Linked DNA regions of Homo sapiens: all the other regions are linked to region 1. Evidence: fine-mapped expression QTL. A gene starts in region 1. Each other region holds a variant in brackets. All regions are shown on one strand. Distances are from middle to middle.

Region 1 (7,331 bases):
GTGGAATCAAAAGGCTGTGTGAGATGGCATGTAGAGCATCTTGACAAACAAACATCTGTTTTACCCACAGATGGAACATATATGCCTTTTTAAGAAATCTGATCTTATTTCTATCCTCATACATAAAATGTAATTGAGAGAAAACAATAAATAAATAATTTACCTAATTATGAAAATAACTTCACCAAAAATAAAGGTTAACTATATATGAAAAAATAAATTCTAGGCTCCTGGAAGAAGTTGACACAGATCCCCCCTTGAACAAGTCCTCTTTAACTCAGGCCTCAAAGAATCCTACAGATAGAGTTCTAACAAATATGACCTTATTCACACACACACACACACACACACACACACATACACACAGAGAGAATAATAAGCAACTACGTGTCAGATTGAGCAGAAACAACAAAGTAAACCAGATCCACAAAACTTTAGAGATAAAATTTATATATATATATATAAAAAACACAAAATATGTTTAATATGTTTAAAGAAACAAAAGAAGGGATTTAAACACATGAGTAAGGAGGAAGAGATTAAAAAATGACAAGCCATATTTTTAGAAAGATTGAAAAAGACTTTCTAAAAATAAAAATAATAATAATTTAAATTTAAAAATAAACACAGGGAGTAACCAACTGATTAGATCCAGCTGAAGAGAAAATTTGTATATTGCAAGATAGAGATAAAGAAATAACACAAAATTATCAGCATGTTAAGGACATGGGAAAATATAAGAGATATGGAGAAAAGGTGAAAAGGGTGGCATATACATAATTGGAATTCCATAAAGATCGAAAAGAGAGAATGTTGAAAAGGCAATATTCACAAAGATGATGAGCTTTCTAGAACTGATGAAGGAATCTTGAGGATGGATGAAGAATCCTCATGCATCTTCAATCCTCATGAAATCTGCAGATTTATGAAGCTTAGAAAATCCCAAATAGGATTAAAAACACAAAAATGGAAACCTATACTTAGACACATTGCAATAAAATTGCAGTTCACCAAAGACTAAGGAAAAAAGAGCCAGAGAGGAAAGATGGACTACCTATGAAGGATGGAATTTAGACGGACAAAAGACTTCTCAACAGCGATAACAGACAGCAGAAGATTAAAAGTTCCAAATTGCTAAGAAAATATATGTCATCCTATAATTATATACTCAACAGAACTAAATTTCAAGGACCAGAGCAAGAATTAGGACATTTTCAGGTAAACTACCACTCAGAACATTTACATCCAAAATCCCCACTAAAGAAACTTCTAAAGGATATAACTGAAGTAGGAAAAGGACACTAGGGTAATGTCTGCGATGCAGGAAGATTGAATCAGCCCCCGCGGATGGGACTCTGATGCACACACAACACGTCCAACACCAGGCTCATGTGTCTTGGGAAGAACACCTGAACCATGAAAACATCCTCCCCTTAAGACCAGGACCGAGAAAGTCGGGTAATGGGCAGCATGTGCCTCTTCCTCCTTTGTCCGTGTTACTCAATAGATAGTCATCATTTTCTTTAAAAATGGTATGACAGATTAAATGAAAAAATGATTTTTAGAAAGGTTTATAAAGTTTTCAATGGAATACATTTCTCTAGCTGTAAAAGCATTTCCTGCCTTGACTTAACCACAAGACAGGATGGGTTGATGAAGCAGAGGCCCTCTTCTTTGTAGTGACGCAGAGGCAGTACAGGCTTGTGGTTAAGAGCGTGGGCTCTGGAGACAATTCGAATGCCTCTCAACAGCACTCTGGGCCCATTGGTGTTTCTTCACCTCTCTAAGTTCCAGTTTTCACATGTGTAAGTTAGTACCCAGTTTCTAAGATTGTTGTGAGGGTTAAATGAAACGACATATGAAGCAAAGTTCCTAGCACATGGGAGGCATTCACTGTACGTTAGCTGGTAATATTGTTTTAATGACATTGGTAGTCTGCACCAATCTTTGTGCTGTCCCCTACATTTTCTGAAAAGAAATCATCTTTAGTCATCTAGCCACAGCATAGCAGAAAAGCTGGAGGTGCTCAGAGTGTAATTTATATGGTAACACTTCACGTATAATACTAGGCTCTGCAGATAATAGTTGTTCATTTAATTTGGGTGGATCTGAGATTTTAGTGGAATACTGTATATAATTCCTATTACAGTATTCACATATCTTTTCAGATATTATTTTGCCTCCTTTAATCAAATTTTGAGAAAATTGTTTTTAGAACAAGCACTGAGAAATTTTGGTGAGTTTTTAATTTTTTAATTTTTACCAGATGTCAAAAAAGACAATCTACAGTATATTAAAGTATATCTATTCTTGAACAGATCTAAAAATAGTACAAATCATTGATGACGATGACCAAAAGTACAATATTTTCCTACAGTGTTATAGAAAATGCTTGCTTTCATCTATCAGTTTAATAGTTACTTATTAAGACTCTACTATATATTTCAGGCACTGTGGTAGTCACTTATTAACTAATAATTATTACTTGACATTTATTAATACTGGAAATATTCTTTCCTAATATCACATTTTTTTCTGATGGATATAAAAAGTATTTACTGGACCATTGTACAGATGAGGGATTGGTGCCAGATAGCTCTAAAGCCAGGGGCTGGTAGGCTTCTTCCTAATACTGAATGAAGTTTGCCAAAGCACTGTTTCCTGAAAAGAAAATAAAGTATGAACAACCCCCTTTTTCTATATCTATGGTTTTGCCTAATTAGTTCTAAATTTAAAGTTTGGCCCTTTACCACTGCTCAAAGTAGAGGAAACCATGTGTCTTCCTCATTTCTTTCTCTCTTATCATGCTTTGCATTACCACATTTATACAGCCTAAACCAGGAAGAATGTTGCGAACATCACTGACAATTATGCCAAAGCATGTTATCTACTTTAAAATATTATTTTATTTTTTAATCTTATACTTACCCATATTTCTTCCGGTGATGTGTTTGTTGACTGAGGAGCTTGATAAATCTGTGCCTGCATCAAGTCAAGAAGAGAAACCAACACTGCTGAGGGGACAGGAAATTGCACTCATATTTCAGCACAAACCAATGAGGAAGCAGCATCTCAATGAGAAGGGTGTGCGTTATCCAAGTTTGAACAAAAAAAGTCTCTTAAATACTTTTAAAGATGTTTTTATTTATTGTTTACTGTACTGTAATTTTTATAACTCACTTGTCTCATTGCATCTTAATTACAAGTATGTACTGATATTATATTATATGCCCTTTACTTAATGGAATATATGTTAAATATTTTATTTATTTCTTTGTTCATTCATTCATTCATTCATTCATTCACTCATCATGCCAGCAGTGTGCGGGGAGATGTATACGAACTGGCTATCAACCAAAAGCAGCTTTTTTTACCTAGTAAAGGAGAAAGACATGTTTAATAATGATTGTAATGCAATGGCAAAATGAAGAAGTACTTCAAGAGGGGTACAGATAAAATAGAATGAACCATTTGGATGTGTGAGATAGGGGAGGATATTGTAGGTAGATTCAGGGTGATAAAGTTCCTGGGACAAAAACAGAAAAGGGAGAATTGAGGCTGAGGGGTTTAATGATGGATATTGTGCTGCTTAAGGCAGGGGTTAAGGTAGCCAACCTCATACCGTCTTTCTTTTCTTTTTTTTTTTGAGAGACTAATGGGATTAGATATATAGTATTTGATTGTAGAACTATTTTCTCCTTTGATTCTCTCCTCTTGGAAACAGAGATGGCTAAAAACCAGTTGAATTAACTAGCTGAGACAAATAATTTTATGAAACTTGAAAATTTTATTTAAGACTTACATTGTTATTATAAAAACTCTTGTACTTTAGCAAGTTAAAGTTAATGCCAAATCTATAAGTGGTTTAATATGAAGTGAAATTAGCTCCTATAACTTTCTTACTATTGATATATAAAAAAGTCAGAAATATCACTTTTGAATCTTGCCCTCATAAACTTTTATTAGAAATGAAGGGAAAATATTATTTGAAAGAACAGAATTTATTTGGGATGAAAACATTTGACTTAATTTTAAAGATGTAATCAGGACATTTTGAATCTGTGTTTGTTAAAGGACATTAAGGGTTGTTGCTGGTGTTTTTTTTTTGTTGTTTTTTTCTCCCTACCCAGAGATAGAAAAGATTAGCCTGTATATAAGCAAGGCTTTCCATATTGAAGTTGATCAGGGTATATCAGGAATGTAAAGATTTTCAATACTTCCGTTGTAGGTCTTTCTTTGAGAATAATAAAACTAATACCTTACATTTATAAAGCACAGGATAGTTTATAAAGTAATTTAGCATATAGTAAATTATAAATCAATATATTGTTACTGAAATAATAAAAATTAAGTATAAAGTAAAAAATTAACAATAAATGTCTTGAAGTTTTACAAAAATGAAAAGTAACGATTTCAGTTTACTTGTGACTGTAATTCAAAGTTCTCATTTTTGCTTGGTTTCGTACATCTGCTTATCTGTGGTTTCTATACATGATATATCTTTTTTTAAGTTCGGGGTACAAGTGCATTGTTACGTAGGTATTTCATTACTCTGATGATCTCTTACTTTATCTGAATAGACTATACTTCTGCTTTTAGGGAAAGGGTATTTTCATGTCCATATCTAATATTCATGTATTTTGCTTTTCAAAAGAAAAAGATTATCATTAAGAAACATAAGAAACACAAACTTTCACTTCTGATTAAAGAGGAGAAAAAGCTGGAGCTGACCTATGCTAAAACCTTGCCAACTCTACACAATAAGAAATTTACCAGCTTTTAAGAAATTTGCTTCTTAATATGGAAAATATGGCAATACTGTATTTTCAACTATAGGGCTATCTTTTATAATGAACGGTTAGAAATTTTAAATCATTGAGTCACTGTGACATTTTAACAACATAACAATGAGATAAAGACAATTAGTAGTTATTCAGAACACTGCCTTAACGGGGTTGGCATTTCTGACCAGTCAATTATTTGGTTTTCTGTGGTCACAATCTGGGGACCCAACACTGGCCAGTTGGGCTACTCATGGGGTAATGGGGAGGAGATTGTGGATCTACCTGGTTCCAACTTCTCCATTGGGCAGACAGTGCAAGAGTGTGTTCTACTGATGAAGGGGTCCTTTGTGAGGCCACACTATCTGCTAGGTGTAATTTCACTAGCTAAAGCGGCAACTAAATATGGCAGGGTAAGATTTTGAAATAATGCTATATTTTCCCAGCCACATTTCTTTTCACTCTAGCCCTACCCTTACACAATCAGTGAGCCATTTTGCATTTATTGCCTCAAGGAAATTTCTGGCACAAGCGGGGGGGAAAAAAAGAAGACAATGTGAGTTTTGACTTTCAAAAATTCAAGGCCTTGGAAAAGACTGAGGCACAGACACTATGCTTGGGAGAATATGTGCTGAAATAAAGTAAAGCTTCCCAGCCCCCAAAACTGAAAAAGATTGTCCTGCTTGGCGGGGGTTGGGTTTAACGTTGTGAGAGAGGAAGTATGTTCAAGAGTTAGATGTGGTCAGTGCTTGAGAAAGGGGCCCTGCATCCTGATTGCTGTACTCACTTCCAAGCAAGCCCTGAGGTAGGGGTGGGTGACAAACACCCTAGATGAGTTGTGTGATCTGGGGAGGAGAGTGAACCTGTGCCTCATTTCCAAGGAGAGACTCAGGAGTATGTACCTGAGAGACCTCACTGTCATAGTTGGGTATGGTTTGTTTGTCTTTATAAAGCTGGTGTTGATTTGATTCCCAGTGTGGCAGTAGTGGGAAGTGGGGCCCAGTGGGAGACGTTTGGGCAATGGGGGTAGATCCCTCCTTAATGGCTTGGTGCTGTTCTGAGGTAGTAAGCGAGTTCTCTTTCTGGATTAGTTCTCCCAGGAATGGATTAGTTCTCGAGAGAGTGGGCTATTATAAGAGCCTGGATACCTCTCCGGCCCTCTTTGCATGTGTCCACTTTCCTTTGGACTTTCTTTGCCATGCTGTGATGCAGCATGAAATCCCTTGCCAGAAGCTGGGACCACATCCTTGAATTTCTTGGCCTACAGAATCATGAGCTAAATAAACCTCTTTTCTTTATAAATTATCCAGTCTCACGTATTATTTTATAGCAACACAAAACAAACTAAGACACTCATCAAGTCCCTCTGTGCCCGTATAGCACAGGTGGAGTAGAATGAGGGGCACAAAGAAGTGATGGGAAGCCTCAGCCCATCTCACAGCACTTTCAGTGGCCCAGTGTGGCACTTTGTGTCACGGATGAGGGACAACTCAGGTTAATACTACCTGGGCTAACTACCAAAGACCAGAAGGGAAAGGGGGTGTCTCAGGGGATGCCAGCATTGATAGAGGGCAGTTCTGAGAACCAAGGGTCAAGCCACCTTCCAGTCCTGGCAACATGAAAAGTCCCTAAATCTTAGCTGGTGTTATGAACTGAACTGTGTCCTTTCCCAAAATTCATATGCTGAAGCCCTAATCCTCAATACTTCAGAATGTGGCTGCATTTGGATATAGAGCCTTTAAAGAGGTGATTAAATTAAAATAAAGCCCCAAGGATAGGCCCTAATCCAATCTGACTGCTGTCCTTATAGGAAGAGGAAATTTGATAGCCTAGAAGAAACGGAGAAGTTCCTAGGCACATACAACTTACCAAGACTGAAACATGAAAAAAAAAACAGAAAGTCTAAACAGAGTAATAAAAAGTAAGGAAATCTGATTAGTAATAAAAATTCTACCACCGAAGAAAAGCCCAGGAAGTCGTCACTGCTGAATTCTACCAAACATTTAAAGAAGCCATACCAATCCTTCTCAAACTCTTCCAAAATATTTGGAGAAGTGGGAATACTTCTCAATTTATTTTATGAGGCCAGCATTACCTAGATAGCAAAGCCAGACAAGAACACTACAAGATAAAAAGTTACACGCGAATGTCCTGATGAACATAAGATACAGAAATCCTCAACAAAATACTAGCAAACTGAATACAATAGCACATTAACAGGATCTTTCACCATACATCACTTTAACAGAATGAAGGACAGAAACCATTTGATCATCTCAATACATGCATAAAAAGCATTTGACAAAATTTAACATCCTTTCACAAGAACTCTCAACAAATTAGGTGTAGAAGGAATGTACCTCAACATAATAAAGGCCATACACGACAAACCCACAGCTCACATCATATTAAATGGTGAAAAATTGAAAGCTTTCCCTCTAAGATCAGAACAAGACAGAATGTCCACTCTTGCCACTTCTATTTAACATAGTACTGGAAGTCCTAGCCAGAGCAATTAGGCAAGAGAAAGAAATAAAAGATATCCAAATT
Region 2 (7,331 bases), 620 kb after region 1:
AGATATAATTTAAGTGTTCCTACATACTTGAATCAGAAGTATAAAATATTAAGCTTTTTAAAAACTTATTCTGGAAGTTCAAACTTACCTTTTTTAATGTATTGCCTTGGATAAAGGGCAGAGGCCATCATTCTAAATGACATTTTGTATGAAGTAATACATTATTTCTAGTACCTGTGGTTTTTTCTTAAAACTTTTATCACCTGAAATGACCTCTCAGTAAAGGCTTTTGAAAACTATAAATCTCTGATGTGTGTGTTTTAAATTCAATTATAGAAAAGTATTTTAAGAAAAGACACTGGTGCAGATGTTTAAAAACACTGCATTAATATAAAAGCAGAGATAAAGATACTTGAAAAAGACAGCCTTGACAAAAATTATGTTCAACCAACTGTGCAGCACTCTAGTTTATGAAAGATACAGAAGCAACAGATTTTGATAGGGACTAAGCATTGAAGTACCCATTTTTTAATCATTACACATGAAGAAAAAACAATTATTCAATTATCTTAGGGAACCTCTTTGTTTTTCTCCAAGATGGGGGAGTGGTGTTTCTCATCATTTTAATCTGAATCTTGTTATATCACTTGGGTAGTCATTTACTTTAAAAATACTGGAGAGTAAACAGTGTAGTGAATACATATGTTATAAAGTTTAAACTGTGTCTTAAGCCCATTCGTGTTTGAGAACCCAAAGCACACTAAAAGAAAAACATGCTAGGGAGGTCAATTAAACTCTTTAAATATTGTTATCAAGCTCCACACCGAGGGGTTTGTTTATCAGTATGGGAGTCATTATAGAAATAAGGTGTGTTTGTTTTGGTGCTTGGCTAGAAACATTGCTGTGCTCCTAGCAGAGATATGTCCTAGTCAGCAGCAGACTTACCATCTACAGAGCTCTGCAATTATGAATTTCCTCCATCCAGACTTATGGCTAAAAACATTGTGGGACTTTAAAACATAGTAATGGTTAGGCATCCTCCAGACTATTTAAATTTGAGTCTTTGGGGAGAAGGACTGCACATTGAGCCTCACAGAGGCCCTGTGGTCTTGTCACCATATCTCTGTCTAAATTCATGTGTTACATAAAGGAAAAATGATTATTAAATGGATATTAAAAAACGATTCTGTCATACTCAATGGTAGACAAGTTAAAAGAAAAGTGGCAAGTAGCAAGTTGTTCTGACATTTAGGGGATATTGATTACCTTGGCTGCTGAAGGTACATCTTTGTTTAAAATGTGAGACAAAAGGATAGAAAAAGAGTAGAACTGGGTTTTCAAATATAGAAAGGGGGAAAATAGTTAAGAATAGAAAATAACTCTCTAAATACCCAGGTGATAAGAAGCTAGAAGGATGATATCCTTTTAAGCCCCAACCAGTTGATTCATTACCTAAGGATTTTAACAGTGTCAACCATCCAAAAAAATGCTGCCTATGGAAAATACAGAAATTAATCAGGACATGCCACATGATACAGAGAGGTGAAACTGCCGAGTGAGGGAGAAAAGTCTTGCACCAGACTACAGGTACAAACCACATGGAAAGAATACAGTTAGGAACAAAAAGAAAAGAAAAGAATAAAAGCAAAGAAAGGAAGAGAAAAGGAAAAGAAAGAGAAGAGCTCATTTCTCAGAATATAGATAAAAAATGATAATAAATTTTAACATCAATTAGACTCATCAAGAATGAGAAAATGTACTTATAGAGCTTACCAAAGAAGGAGATGCCTCCACTACTGAAGTATATACTTGCTTGCAGGCCAAAAAGACTTACCCATAGCTAGAACCACTGTGTAATGGCAAAGGGTTGGAAAAAATATTGTAGAAGTCAAATAAAGGTTAAAAGAAGAAAGCCAGGATGGGAGGGACTTATCAAGAGGCAGAAAACTTTCTTAAAACTTGAGTAGTGGCAGAATCCCTGGGAAATCATTTCTGATGAAGGAAATTATGCTTACAATGGTTCCAGAAGCATTTCACATAGAGATGAGAGTTAACATATTAGGCAGTACAGAAACCACCTACATTGTAATAGAAGCCATGCCGTTAGAATTCTTGGGAAGATTTGATTACCCTTAGCCATTCAACAAGAACAACAACAACAACAACAACAATAACAAAAATAAGGCAATACATTGACAGAGTTGAGAAGAATTAGCAGAAAATGAGGTCCTGAAAAATAATAGGAAATTATTATGTGAAATAATATTATTGTGATATAGTGAAAGTTATCCTAGATTTCAGGAGAAAATTGCTCAAACAGGATGCCTCAGCAGATAGCAGTTATTACATAAACTTACTAACCCCTACCAGCCATACTAAGTCAGAGAAACAGAGCCAACATTGGCACAGGGTACCACAGGGCACAATGGAGGCTCCCAGAACCTAGCGATTCAATGAATTTTACACAGAGAACTGGAGTGCTCCAAACTAGTCATGCATAATCCAGAAAATCACCCATACAATAGCGTAAAGATTCACTGACATTCAAATTGTCAATAGTCAAAAATAGCATTAAGTGGTACTGAGACCCATGGGATGACTTTTCTGGTAAATGTAGAGTTCTTTAAAGTTGTTTAAAAGAGTAGAAAAAGTAGAATCTGATATTTTGGTAAAACAGTAGTATTTATATAGTAAAAACTAAAGTTAAACTGGAAAAAGATAGGAAGCCAATTAGAGTATTTGAAATGGTATAACCATAACTTTGAACGTGTAACTGGAATGAATAGCTTGGGGGCAAAAACCTACCTTTTGAATTAGGAGAAAAATAAATTGATTACCCAGATGATTGTGCAGGAGACTAAAGGGAAAGTGGTGGAAATGTTTCTTCAAACATGTGACTAACACCTTGTGGCTTATAAATAGGAATAAAAACCTCTTAAAACATAAAAAGGAATAGATACTTATGGATAAGTTTAACAAATTATATGCAAAACATGTACACTGCAAACTACAAAACTTTGCTGTGAGACATTAAAGAAGATTTAAATGAAAATATTTACCATATGTATGAATTGGAAGACTAAATATGGTTGTCAATTTTTCTCAATTAACTAAAAATCAATCAAAATCCTAATAGGCTTTTTTTGGTAGAAATTAACAAACTATTTCTAAATTTTATGTGGAAATACAAAGAACCTAGATTAGCGAAAACAATTTTTGAAAGACCTACAAAATTGAAAGACTTTGCCTGATTTGAAGATTTACCTTAAAGCAACTTTAAATTCTTTCAAGCATGTTAAAAATGAGCAAAATGTATGAGTAAACTCTTAATAGAATGACATGTAAG[A/G]TTCTTCAACAAGCACATGAGATTTTTTACGTCATTATTCATCAGAGAAATATAAGTTTAAGCCGCTGTAAAGTACTATTACACACAAATTTGCATGGCCAAAATTAAAAAGACTAGCAGTACCAAATATTGGTAGGGATATGGAACAATTGGAACTATCATTGCTGGTGGGCACATAAAATAATGCAATTTCTTTGCATGTACTACCATGCCCAGCTAATTTTTTTTTTTGTAGAGATGAGGTCTACTCTATGTTGTCCAGGCTGGTCTCAAACTCCTGGACTCAAGCGATCTTCCCACCTTGGCCTCTCAAAGTGCTGGGATTTACAGTCTGAGCCACTGCACCCAGCTGGATCATGCTTTTAACCATAAGATTGAAAAGACCTAAGTAAGGAAAGGACTGGGCCAAACAGTACAATGTAAATGTTTTATATAATTATAAAATAAATAAAACTCAAATAGAAGAAAACATCTTTTTCTAAAACTTAAATGCAATGTAAAAAATGAACCTAATTGTGTCAAGAGTAGGTTGTTCAATCAGAAATAGAGGATTCTTTCCATGAACAGATACAGTTTATTGTAATTTTTGAAATATCACAAATTGATTTGGGCATCATTTAGAATCTTGCTGTTTTAGCACTTGGAAAATTTTTGAAGGTTTTTGAGAGTCATGAGGTTGTATTTAACTGCTGTGGCTTACTCAGTCAAGGAAGGTAAATTTAATACATATTTATTATTGTATCTTTCAAGAATTAACTAGTTTTCTGGGATTGAGACTGCTGAAAATGTCAGCACCTGGCATTATTTGAACTAAGCAGACGTATTTTCCATATAAGATACTTGGACTTTTAAAGTGATTCTTTCTGAAATAATATTAATGGGAAACTGATCACACACAAATCTCATCTTGTAATAGAAGCCCCATATGATTCCCTTGATTGTGTTTTATATGAGACTATATGTCATACAAACCATGGCCAATTCTATTTCCCTCAATATTTGTTAACCCAGAGTTTTGTCTTTTTATTTGCAAAGAGTTCTCTGCTGAATGACTGAATTGTTTCTGCAGATTTTCTAGAAAACTTAACAACTGCAAGTCCATTCAGAGTGTTTTTGAAGAATTGTCTTCATAAGTCTCATACTAGGAGTGGCAGAGAGAGAGACTATTGTGAGTGACTTTATGGAAAGATTGCATATACAAAGTAGGACATATTCTAAGGAAAAAAGAGCCAAAAAGAAAGCTTAAAATATCTTTAGTAATCATAGTGGAAGTAAAAATAATATTGTTACTTCAAAAATATTATATATACAGAAGCATGATACAAATTAGGAACTTAAATATTTACATAAAAAGAAATATAAAGCTCATAATTAAAACACTACTATCTCTTTTGCTAGTATTTCTGCATATATATTCTGCTCACTTTGTCTTGTGTTTGCATTTCCTTGTATGTCCAGTTATTTTTGATTGAATGCACTTAATATAAAACATTATAGATATAATCTGAGACTTGATATATATGTGTACTTACATATACCTATATTACATATTTATATTTTTTAATTTTATTTTTATTTATTTCTAGATTTTCTACTTAATCTCAGTAAAAAGTTTGGCCAAATTAAATAATCTGCTGTTCCCAGAAGCTGAATTCTAGCTCTATTATGTTTTTCACCAGAACACTGATAAGAGATAATTTTCTTTCACTTTGCAGAAAAACACAATGTACCTTTTCCTGGATAATCAAGGTTACAGCAACAATCAAATTGTGTAGATAAGTTGTAGGGCTCATTATGATCTTCCAGGACATTTATGTAGCCCTATTGATGACGTTCTGTAACTGAGGCCTAATAGAACATGTACCTACGATCATATAAATAGAACTTCCAACAGCAATATAGGGTTGTTCACACTCTGGATTGTTTAAAGAGGTTGTTCAGTTTGTCTCAATCAATTAAAATAGAATTGGTACCTTCATGAAGGGGCCAAATCATGCAAATGTGTACATTATACTAAGATACTGCTAGTGAACTGCTGGGCCTTCTGTTATTTAAAAAGTGTACTTTACACCAGTAAAATAAAACTTTAAGAAAAACTTCTTGTTAATTTAGAGATTTACATAGAGAACACAAAAACTATGGCTACAGAAGCTGTGTCCTTACAACAGTAAGGAGGTTAATGGCAAAGCCTGTGCTTTTAACCCTAATACTGGACAGTTCTAAGTAAAGCAAGAACTAGGCCGATTAGTACAGTATCTTGAATTTCAGGAAATCTGGATGGCTGTATTAAGCACAGGGATCCGATTTCTCAGAAGCTCATACTTTTCCAGGTTTTAGATAATGACTGTCTATATGTTCAATAATTGGAAATAGTTTCTAAGTAATAGAAAAACAGTTTTGGAGAAAGAACTAAAGAAAGCACTAAGTGATTCATCAATACCAATTTGGGTGTATGATCTGTCAAAACAGTAAAAGAGAGACTTCCAAAAGAACAAATGCAGAGAGTGCATTTCTGGAGGCCTAAAATCTAATTAAAATTGCCTGGGACAACTGGAGATAGTGCTATCCTAAGACCCTTTCACAGGCATGTCAAGAAGAGAACAAAGAGATATCTGGTCTTTCCGGCATAAAATATGCACCATCTCCAATTGTCAAGAAAAGGACTTCCATTTGTGAATGTGAAATTTTTTTTAAATGAAGTAGTGAAGAGTCCCATGTGATAATTTACTGAGATTTTTAAATAAAACTGAAGGCCAAATTCCCAGAGGACTGATTTCAGGGAACCATTGGATTATACAGTACCTTTAAAAGCAGCAAAATCTGTTTTCTCATTGTGAGGGAGTTACAGTAAGAGAGGGAAACTGCATATTTTCCTCAGCTGTGACTGGCCAGAGTAAAATCAAGAGTGTGAAAAACTGTGTGCAAGATATGGAACCTCTGACACTGGAATTCAGAGATGAAAACTCAAGGCAGGGCAAAAATTATGCCGAATGGGCAAGTAGCATGGATAGTCAATGAGTCATTCACAGTTACATGAAGTAGCCCTCATAGTGGAAAAGTTGAATGGCCTATTAAGGAAAATTAAGAAAACACTTGGCTCCTGAATTTCACAGGAAATGGGCAACATGTTTCAACCCTGTATTAGGGACCTAAATGAGAGGCCATCAAAGGAATGCCACTATTCTGCCACGAGTAGTTATGTCCATAGCAGCCGCCAAAGAACACTAACGAGACATGTCCAGAAACAAAATTCTTTATGGTCACAAAGGCTGATGGAGTTGCCAACAAATTTCAAAGGTGATTTTGTCTCCAGCTGATATGACTCAATTGAATTTTTCCAAGCCATAGGTGAGACATGTTGAGGAATTCATCTTTTAATTATAAAATTAGGCTGGGCATGGTAGCTCACACTTGTAATCCCAGGAGTTTGGGAGGCTGAAGCAGGTGGATCGCCTGAGGTCAGGAGTTAGAGACCAGCCTGATCAACATAGTGAAACCCCGTCTCTACTAAAAATACAAAAATTAGCCAGGTATGGTGGTGCACACCTGTAGTTCTAGCTACTCAAGAGACTGAGGCAGGAGAATCTCTTGAACCTAGGAGGCGGAGGTTGCAGTGACCTGAGATCACGCCACTGCACTCCAGACTGGATGACAGAGCAAGACTCTGTCTCTAATAATAATAATAATAATAATAATAATAATAATAATAATAAAATTAGCTGGCCCAACAAAGTAGGAGGACTATTTAAGGTATTAATGTATCTTAAATGCCATCCATTAGAGAAAGACCAGAGGCATTCGACTTTCTAACCTAATGAAGTGCTAATATGCAAACTCCCTCTGTCTCTCTCTTACACACACAAATCACCAAGGAAATTGAGATGGTGGTGGAGGCAGAAGCAGAAATAATACATTGAACTAAAACCAGACAACTTTCACATGGTGAAGATTAACAAACCAAGGATAAACGAATCTTAATATGAAATAGATAAAATTGGCATTGACTTTTTGGAATGATTTGGACACTTTGAGAAAGGTTGTGGTA
Region 3 (7,331 bases), 22 kb after region 1:
CCCTTGTATATTATGTTGAATCCTTATAATACCTGTGGAGTAAGGCATGACTCTTTCCATTTTCCAGGAAGAAGCAGTAGAAGCTTAGGAAGATTATGCCACTGACCTAAGGTCATAGACAGTTAGTAAATGGCAAAATCGGTGTTAGCACCTAATTCCATGTTTCCTATGATGCTAAACTACTTTCCTTCACAAGATCTGTCATCAGTATTTATAAAAGGGTAACACTGTTCACAAAAATGTATATTACATGCAGTAGTACACCTAACTAGTTACAAAATTGTATATTGCATGTAGTAGTGAACCCTATTTTTAGAAAAGGTACATACAAAAGTGTTTTTTGTTTATTAGTTAGTTTTTGAACTTCAATAATGTGCTGGTTACTGTTCTGGGACTCAGGAAGCCAATCCCGTCCCCAATTCCTGCACCTGTGGGGCTTAGGTTCTATTGGGAGGATCATTGGCTAGTTGCTTAAATGGGACTATGTACATTTCACAGTTCTGTGAGAATGTGTACAGAGCTTGTGAAGTATTTCAAACATCAAGAGTGATGGGATACTTTCATCATTTGAAATGAATTTGATTTTTTGAAACAGGCTTAAATTCAAACTAAGTTAAATGAAATTAATGATTCATTTTAAAGACCTGATTTCTAGTTATTTAAAAAATAATTTTCTCAACAATCAGGTTAATGAAAAGTAATATTTTCTAAGTTAAAAGAAATTAGGAGTAAGTATGTTCTTTATAAATGGGCTTTTGTAAGAGATTCCAGAAATGCTGTGAGCAGTAAAAGCATCACTGAATTCAGCACATATCCACTAGACTGCTTCCAAGGTCAGACCTCATTTAAATGTAGAAAATATGGCATGCTAAACCATGTCCTAACAAAGACTTGGTAGGCCTTCAGATTGCATTTAGCATTTCATTGTTTTCAAGAATTCTATTACTTTAATGTCACATTTCTTATGTAATACACTTGGGTGTTCCTCCTGAGTTTAGAAAATAAGCATTTTGTCATTTTGATTTTTATTTTTTTCAGTGGTGAACTAGTTTGGTAATATATTTATTGCTGAGGAACTTAACTATTGAGCCTATTTTAATATATTAGTAGCAAGTTAAATTTAGAATTATAATAAGTACTTTTCTACTCTTCTTATTTTTTTACTTAAACATAATCAGGATTATTGGAAGAATATGGACTTATTTGATGTGTATCACTTAACAAGGGTATATTTCTCTATGGAGTCATTGTCATTTATAGTGATATAAGAACAAACTAGTTTTGCTAAATTAGATTGCCTGACTGATTAATATTTTAAGGACCCTAAATTGTAAGAAGATGTACAATTGAATGATAAATTTGTGTTATACATAACTCAAGAGTAGTTTGGCATAAGCCTTTTAGAATTCTTTGATTTGACCTCAAAGAACAGAAGTTGAATATTGAACATTCCAACAGTGAGTGGACATGTTAAGTTAAAACATATGGTACATTTCTTTCTATTGGTAAGGGTCTTGGAGAGAGGTGTTTGTATTTGTTATTTTTCTTCTTCTTGGAAAGAACATTTGAAATTATGGGACCTGACTCTAGGGATCAATAAGGAATTATAGTGTCTATAGATTGGAAAGGATTTCAATAATTTTTATATGGTATATAAACTTTCCTTTAGTCAGATCTGTATTGGTTTTTTGCTAGTTGAATGCTTTTCTTAAAAAAAATTTGTTTTATTTTCAATAGCGCCAGCACCGTTATACCTCCTCTACCTTTGCCTCCTCCCTTCTCTCTGCAGGGTTGCCATGGTCATTCCCTGGATGGCTGGGAAAAGGTTTCGACTGGCCTTATGTCAATCTTCAGCTGACTGCCTATTATGTCGTGACCTGGATTGTGGGCGCCAAGCGTTACCATGATTTGGACATTGATTATATTGGAGTTAGTAATATATTTAAAATATGATTCAGTTTTGGACATTTGTTTGTAATTTAGAAAATAATTTGATTCTGTGGTACTTTTTGACTAACCATTTTATGCCATGAGGCTAATTTGTTCTAATGGTGTCTGATAATAACACAAACTAAGTACCTGTGACCTTTAATTGCTCCCCTTTGCCCATCCCAGTGTTCCCACTTTTGAAAACTGTGTTGAGTGTATACCTCCTTCCTCTGAGCTGGGTTTTTTTTTTTTTTTTTTGTATCAACCCAACTCAAATTCTCCTTCAAAGCTTTCCCTGCTTTCTCTGGTTCCTACAACAGTGTTGTGTTTCCTATACAGCTTATGGGGGGTTAGTCTCATTTTATCCTCTTGTTGTCTTAAGCCAAAGATTGGCAAACTTTTTATTAAAGGGCCAGAGCATAAATAGTTTTGGGTTTGTGGGCCAAAAGGCAATATTGAGGATCTTGAGGTAAATATATAGCCATTTAAAATGTAACTATTTAAAACTAAAAACACTTTTAGCTCTCAAGTTGTAAAATTACAGATGATGGGCCAGATTTGGCAGGCTGGCTGAAATCTGCGTTCACCTGTCACAAACTGTTAGTTAACACCTTTTAAGGATTTGAAAAGTATGAAAAATGATATCATGTCCAGCTTGTCTCTTGGCTGGGTGGAGGCATGCCCCAGGCTGCATCGTACCCCACAGGGCCTTAACACACACATAGTGGGTCTCCATAATCATTTGCTTATTAATATACCATCAGTTAAAACTAATACTTAAACATTTTCATGCAATCATGACTTAGATTATCAGCAAACAATTATTGAGTTCCTACTGTGTTGCAGGAACTGTGACTGTAATATTTGAGGGCTACTAAGATTAATAAGCTCTTGTGTTCAGTAAGAGAAGTAGATGCTGGAACATATAAACTGTAATACTACATGATGATACAGGGCATGAGGATGAGCCAAGGGCTGGAGGAAGTCAGAAGAAAGAATATACTAGTTTTTGCTATCCTTTTCCAAATTATGACTGAAAAATTAGTTTATATTTGAGAACTTTCCTTTTTTTTTT[A/TA]CACTGTCACCCGGATTGGAGTGCAGTGTTGTGATCTTGGCTCACTGCAACCTCTGCCTCCTGGGTTCAAGTGATTCTCCTGCCTCAAGTAGCTGGGATTACAGGCACCCGCCACCACACCCAGCTAGTTTTTTTTTCTTTTTATTAGAGACGGGGTTTCACTATGTTGGCCAGGCTGGTCTCAAACTCCTGACCTCGTGATCCGCCCGCCTCGGCCTCCCAAAGTGCTGGGATTACAGGAATGAGCCACCACGCCTGGCCGGAGAACTTTCTTAAATGTCAGGACATTTATAACCTGTAGTGAGACTAAATGTAGGTTTGGTCTAATAGCTTTCTCTTATGGTACAGTCACAAGTAATGGGTGATTCACATCTTGTTTAGACTCATGATAACAAATGCTATGATGAGGAGGTTCATTGATAAACTCTTTCCTGTATCATTGGAGTAAAAAGACCTGCACCTGGATTCTAGAATCGTCTCTTGTTATTAACAGTTTTCTCAACTGTGGAGTTATGGAAGTTCTTTCAATTCTAAAACCCCATGCTTCATGACTCTAAACCTAATAGATGTATATATGTTCCTTTTATCCATCCTCATTCAGAGTTGCTTTTGTGACTAGTGTATTACTGTGATTCTCTGTGTATGCTTAAAAATATGCCTTCTATACAGTATACATATTAATACTTGGCTTTCAGGGATCTTGTCATAATTGTTGTAACAGTTTCCCTGTCTATTAGTTCTCCAATGCCTAGTATAGTTTCTGGCACACATTGTACTGTCAGTATGTGTTGAATGAATTAATGAATATTCCATTGTTGAAAATCTTTGGAATAAATTACTTTTTGAAAAATACCCACTAAATATTTTAAGGTTTTTAAAAATAATATTTTAATTTTTAAAAAGTTGTGCTATCTTATAACTATCTATAAATTCTATGGCAGGATATCCCATAAAGTTAAAAAATGGCGTATCAGATAATATGAAAGATGATGAGAGAAATGGTATCGTAACGATAATCTGCTTTCTGACATTTTGTAACTTTCAATTCAGACTTTTTTGACTTTTTGTTTTGCAGATTTGGAATGAGAGGTCATATAATGCCAATTATATTAAGGTGTGTACAACTTTAGTATCTTTTTGTTTTTAACTTTTTAGTGAATAATTCCTTATGGTTCCTAACACAGAAAATAGTAGGAAATTTGTGTTGGAAATACCGTATTTTTTATACTACAGTTATTTATTTTGCTGGTTGTGACATAAAATTCAAGCAAAATCTTAACAATGTTTATATTCCTGATATTAAAGCATATGTAATTCTTTGTGAGCCCCGAATTACCTTTGTCTAAAGAGTTGTGTTGAATTTTTCTATTTTAAAATTCATTAGTTTTGGAATTCTGATAAATTTTATGAAACAATTATATCATTTTAGATTTTTAGAACTTCAAGAAATGTAGCTTTTTTTCTTTGTCTTTTGTCAAAACTTATGGCATATATTCTAATTCTTGTTTTCTATTGGAGTGTGTTATAGTACATGTTTCTCTTTGTGATTAGCAAAGAGGTAGCAGTAACATCTGCCAATTGTGTTATTTTTGTTCCACTTTTCCTATTTATCTCCATTTAATTCTCACAACCTTACCTATGAGGTAACTACTGTAATTGCTATTTTCCAGGAAAGGAAAAACAGAATAATAACTTCTGCCATTGGAAAAAAAATGGCAGTTTCACTTTTCAGGTGGAGCTAATCTTTAGTTTACTTTTCACTTCCTTTTGTCTTCTTGTATGTATCTTTTCTCTAAGAAATATAATTTTGGGACAGTATTTTATTTCAAGTTTTCAAAAATTTTTATATTAATTTTTTTTTATTTCCATAGGTTTTTGGAGAATAGGTGGTATTTGGTTACATGAGTAAGTTCCTTAGTGGTTATTTGTGAGATTTTGGTGCACCCATCACTGGAGCAGTATACACTGAACCAAATTTGTAGTCTTTTATCCCTCACCTCCTTCCCATCCTTTCCCCGAGTCCCTAAAGTCCATTGTATCATTCTTATGCCTTTGCATCCTCGTAACTTAGCTCCCACTTATGAGTGAGAACATACGATGTTTTGTTTTCCATTCCTGAGTTGCTTCACTTAGAATAATAGTCTCCAATCCCATCCAGCTTGCTGCAAATGCCATTAATGCATTCCTTTTTGTGGCTGAGTAGTACTCCATTGTATACATACACCACAGTTTCTTTATCCACTCGTACTGATTGATGGGTTTTTGGGCTATTTCCATATTTTCACAAATCCATCAATCCTGCTACTGGGTATCTACCCAGAGGAAAAGAAGTCATTATACAAAAAAGATACTTGCACATGCGTGTTTATAGAAAAAAATTTTCTTTGAATTGGATGTTTTATGTTCTTAAGTAGATAAGGTTCAATACATTTCTTTCATCTCTTCATTCGGTTAATCATAGAGCATTTATTTGCTCAACACTGGTTTGTCAGGCATTGTGTGTATGGTTATAATATAAGGATAGAGAATACTGTTTTCTGCCCAAAAGGATTTTTTGTATTGGGGAGGGTGGTTATAAAGTCAGATATAGACAATTAAAATGTGTCATAATTTGGAATGTGTCAAATAATGGAATAATACACCTACAGGGTTCTTAAAAGGCGCACAGAGGAGATGACACCTCTCCCTGGGTTGATTAGGGAAGTCTTTTAGAGGAGGTGATGTGTAATTTGAATCTTCAAGAACGGATGGATAGGAACTCTCCACTTTGCTAAGGCAGGGGCATATCATGTGCAAAGAACTGAAGATTGAGAGGTAAAGGGATATGGGGGAAAAACAAGTCATGAAAGATGGATTAGACAATGGAGGAAGAGTGGGGGCACTGACCCCCATCAGTAAGCTAATGTATTCACTGGAATAATGGCTTTTTTTTTTTTTTTGACAGAGTCTCTCTCTGTCACCCAGGCTGGAGTGCAATGGCGCCATCTTGGCTCACTGCAACCTCTGCCTCCCGGATTTAAGCAATTCTCTGCCTCAGCCTCCTGAGTAGCTGGGATTACAGGTGCCCACCACCACGCCCGGCTAATTTTTTTGTATTTTTAGTAGAGACGGGGATTCACCATCTTGGCCAGGCTGGTCTTGAATTCTTGACCTTGTGATCCGCCCGCCTCGGCCTCCCAAAGTGCTGGGATTACAGGCATGAGCCACTGCGCCCAGCCAATAATGGCATATTTTAATTAATCTGTAGTTGTAGGCGTGGAGAAGGCATAGATTGAGAAGATCTATTGCAGCCAGAGCTAGGTACTCAAGGGCAATTCCAGGTTGAAGTATGCTGATGGGAGTGTGGTGGTGGGAGCAGATTGGGTGGGGGAGGTGGGGCAGTGGAGCTATTAATAAGATTGGAGCACAGGGATTGTAAGTGGAAAGTCATGCCTGCTGTGAGCACAGGTCTGATAAGAGCAGTAAGGGGACAGAGCAGAAGCCAAGTTGGTGCATGTATACTGGATAACTCTGTAATGAGGTAGATGGTGTTGCTACAGCATCTTCATAGTGAAAGGTGATGAACTTTTTAAATACCCAAATTTGACATTTCAAAGCTTAAGTTTTATTTTCTTGTGATTGTACACATGTCTCTCTTGTGGTCATTTCATTTGAGGGAAACATTAAAAGTATTACGGTTTCCATTTTCTTTTAAACTAATGAAATAAGACAGGGCTATATTTTATGTTATTTGAACTTTTTTACTATTAAGAGTCTGTTGCTGACTCCAGTGCATTCTAATTCAACTAACCTGGTTTGAAAGACTAATTGTTGCTCTAAGACATATTTTCAGTGTTTCAGACAGTTCAGACTTCATTTCCTTTTTTTTGAACCTTGAGTTTTCTTGCAGTAAAATCTCTCAGGATACAAAAACTTTTTACTTTGTGTTTGCCATTTTTTTCCAGCAAGATTTTATTGGGATCTGTGTTCCGTTTGTTGAAATGCCTGTTGCAGGCCAGGCTCAGTGGCTCGTGCCTGTAATCCCAGCACTTTGGGAGGCTGAGGCAGGTGGATCACCTGAGGTCAGGAGTTTGAGACCAGCCAGACCAACATGGTGAAACCCCATCTCTACTAAAAATACAAAAAAATTAGCCGGGCATGGTGGCAGACGCCTGTAATCCCATCTACTTGGGAGGCTGAGGCAGAAAAATTGCTTGAACCTGGGAGGCAGAGGTTTCAGTGAGCACTCCAGCCTGGGCAAAAAGAGCGAGACTCTGTCTCAAAAGAAAAGAAAAGAAAAAAAAAGAAATGCCTATCACAAAGAGTTCAATAATGACGAATGTAGGTG

Alleles and levels. Positions count from the first base shown, and alleles are read on the strand shown. Sizes are in standard deviations (SD) of each study's normalised expression. Not every link is listed here.
With allele A in place of G in region 2, the expression in liver of the gene that starts at base 3,016 in region 1 is higher (large effect, 1.2 SD a copy in GTEx).

The links.
Region 2: its variant is fine-mapped to the expression of GPR65 in liver (GTEx, PIP above 0.99).
Region 3: its variant is fine-mapped to the expression of GPR65 in monocytes after LPS (Quach 2016, PIP 0.95).

The regions. Positions count from the first base shown.
Region 1 is chr14:88,000,820-88,008,150 of GRCh38, reverse strand. GPR65 (G protein-coupled receptor 65) reads right to left here and starts at 3,016. Exons shown (of 2, transcript NM_003608.4): 1 at 2,929-3,016. RefSeq lists enhancers at 1,572-1,631, 2,432-2,601.
Region 2 is chr14:87,377,993-87,385,323 of GRCh38, reverse strand. The region is part of intron 9 of LINC02296 (long intergenic non-protein coding RNA 2296); the gene reads left to right. Among named protein-coding and RNA genes, the nearest start is that of LINC02296, 230 kb to the left of the region's middle. The variant A/G (reference allele first, on the strand shown) is at 3,287.
Region 3 is chr14:87,978,992-87,986,322 of GRCh38, reverse strand. GALC (galactosylceramidase) reads left to right here. Exons shown (of 17, transcript NM_000153.4): 5 at 1,790-1,929; 6 at 4,080-4,118. Among named protein-coding and RNA genes, the nearest start is that of GALC, 11 kb to the left of the region's middle. The variant A/TA (reference allele first, on the strand shown) is at 3,005.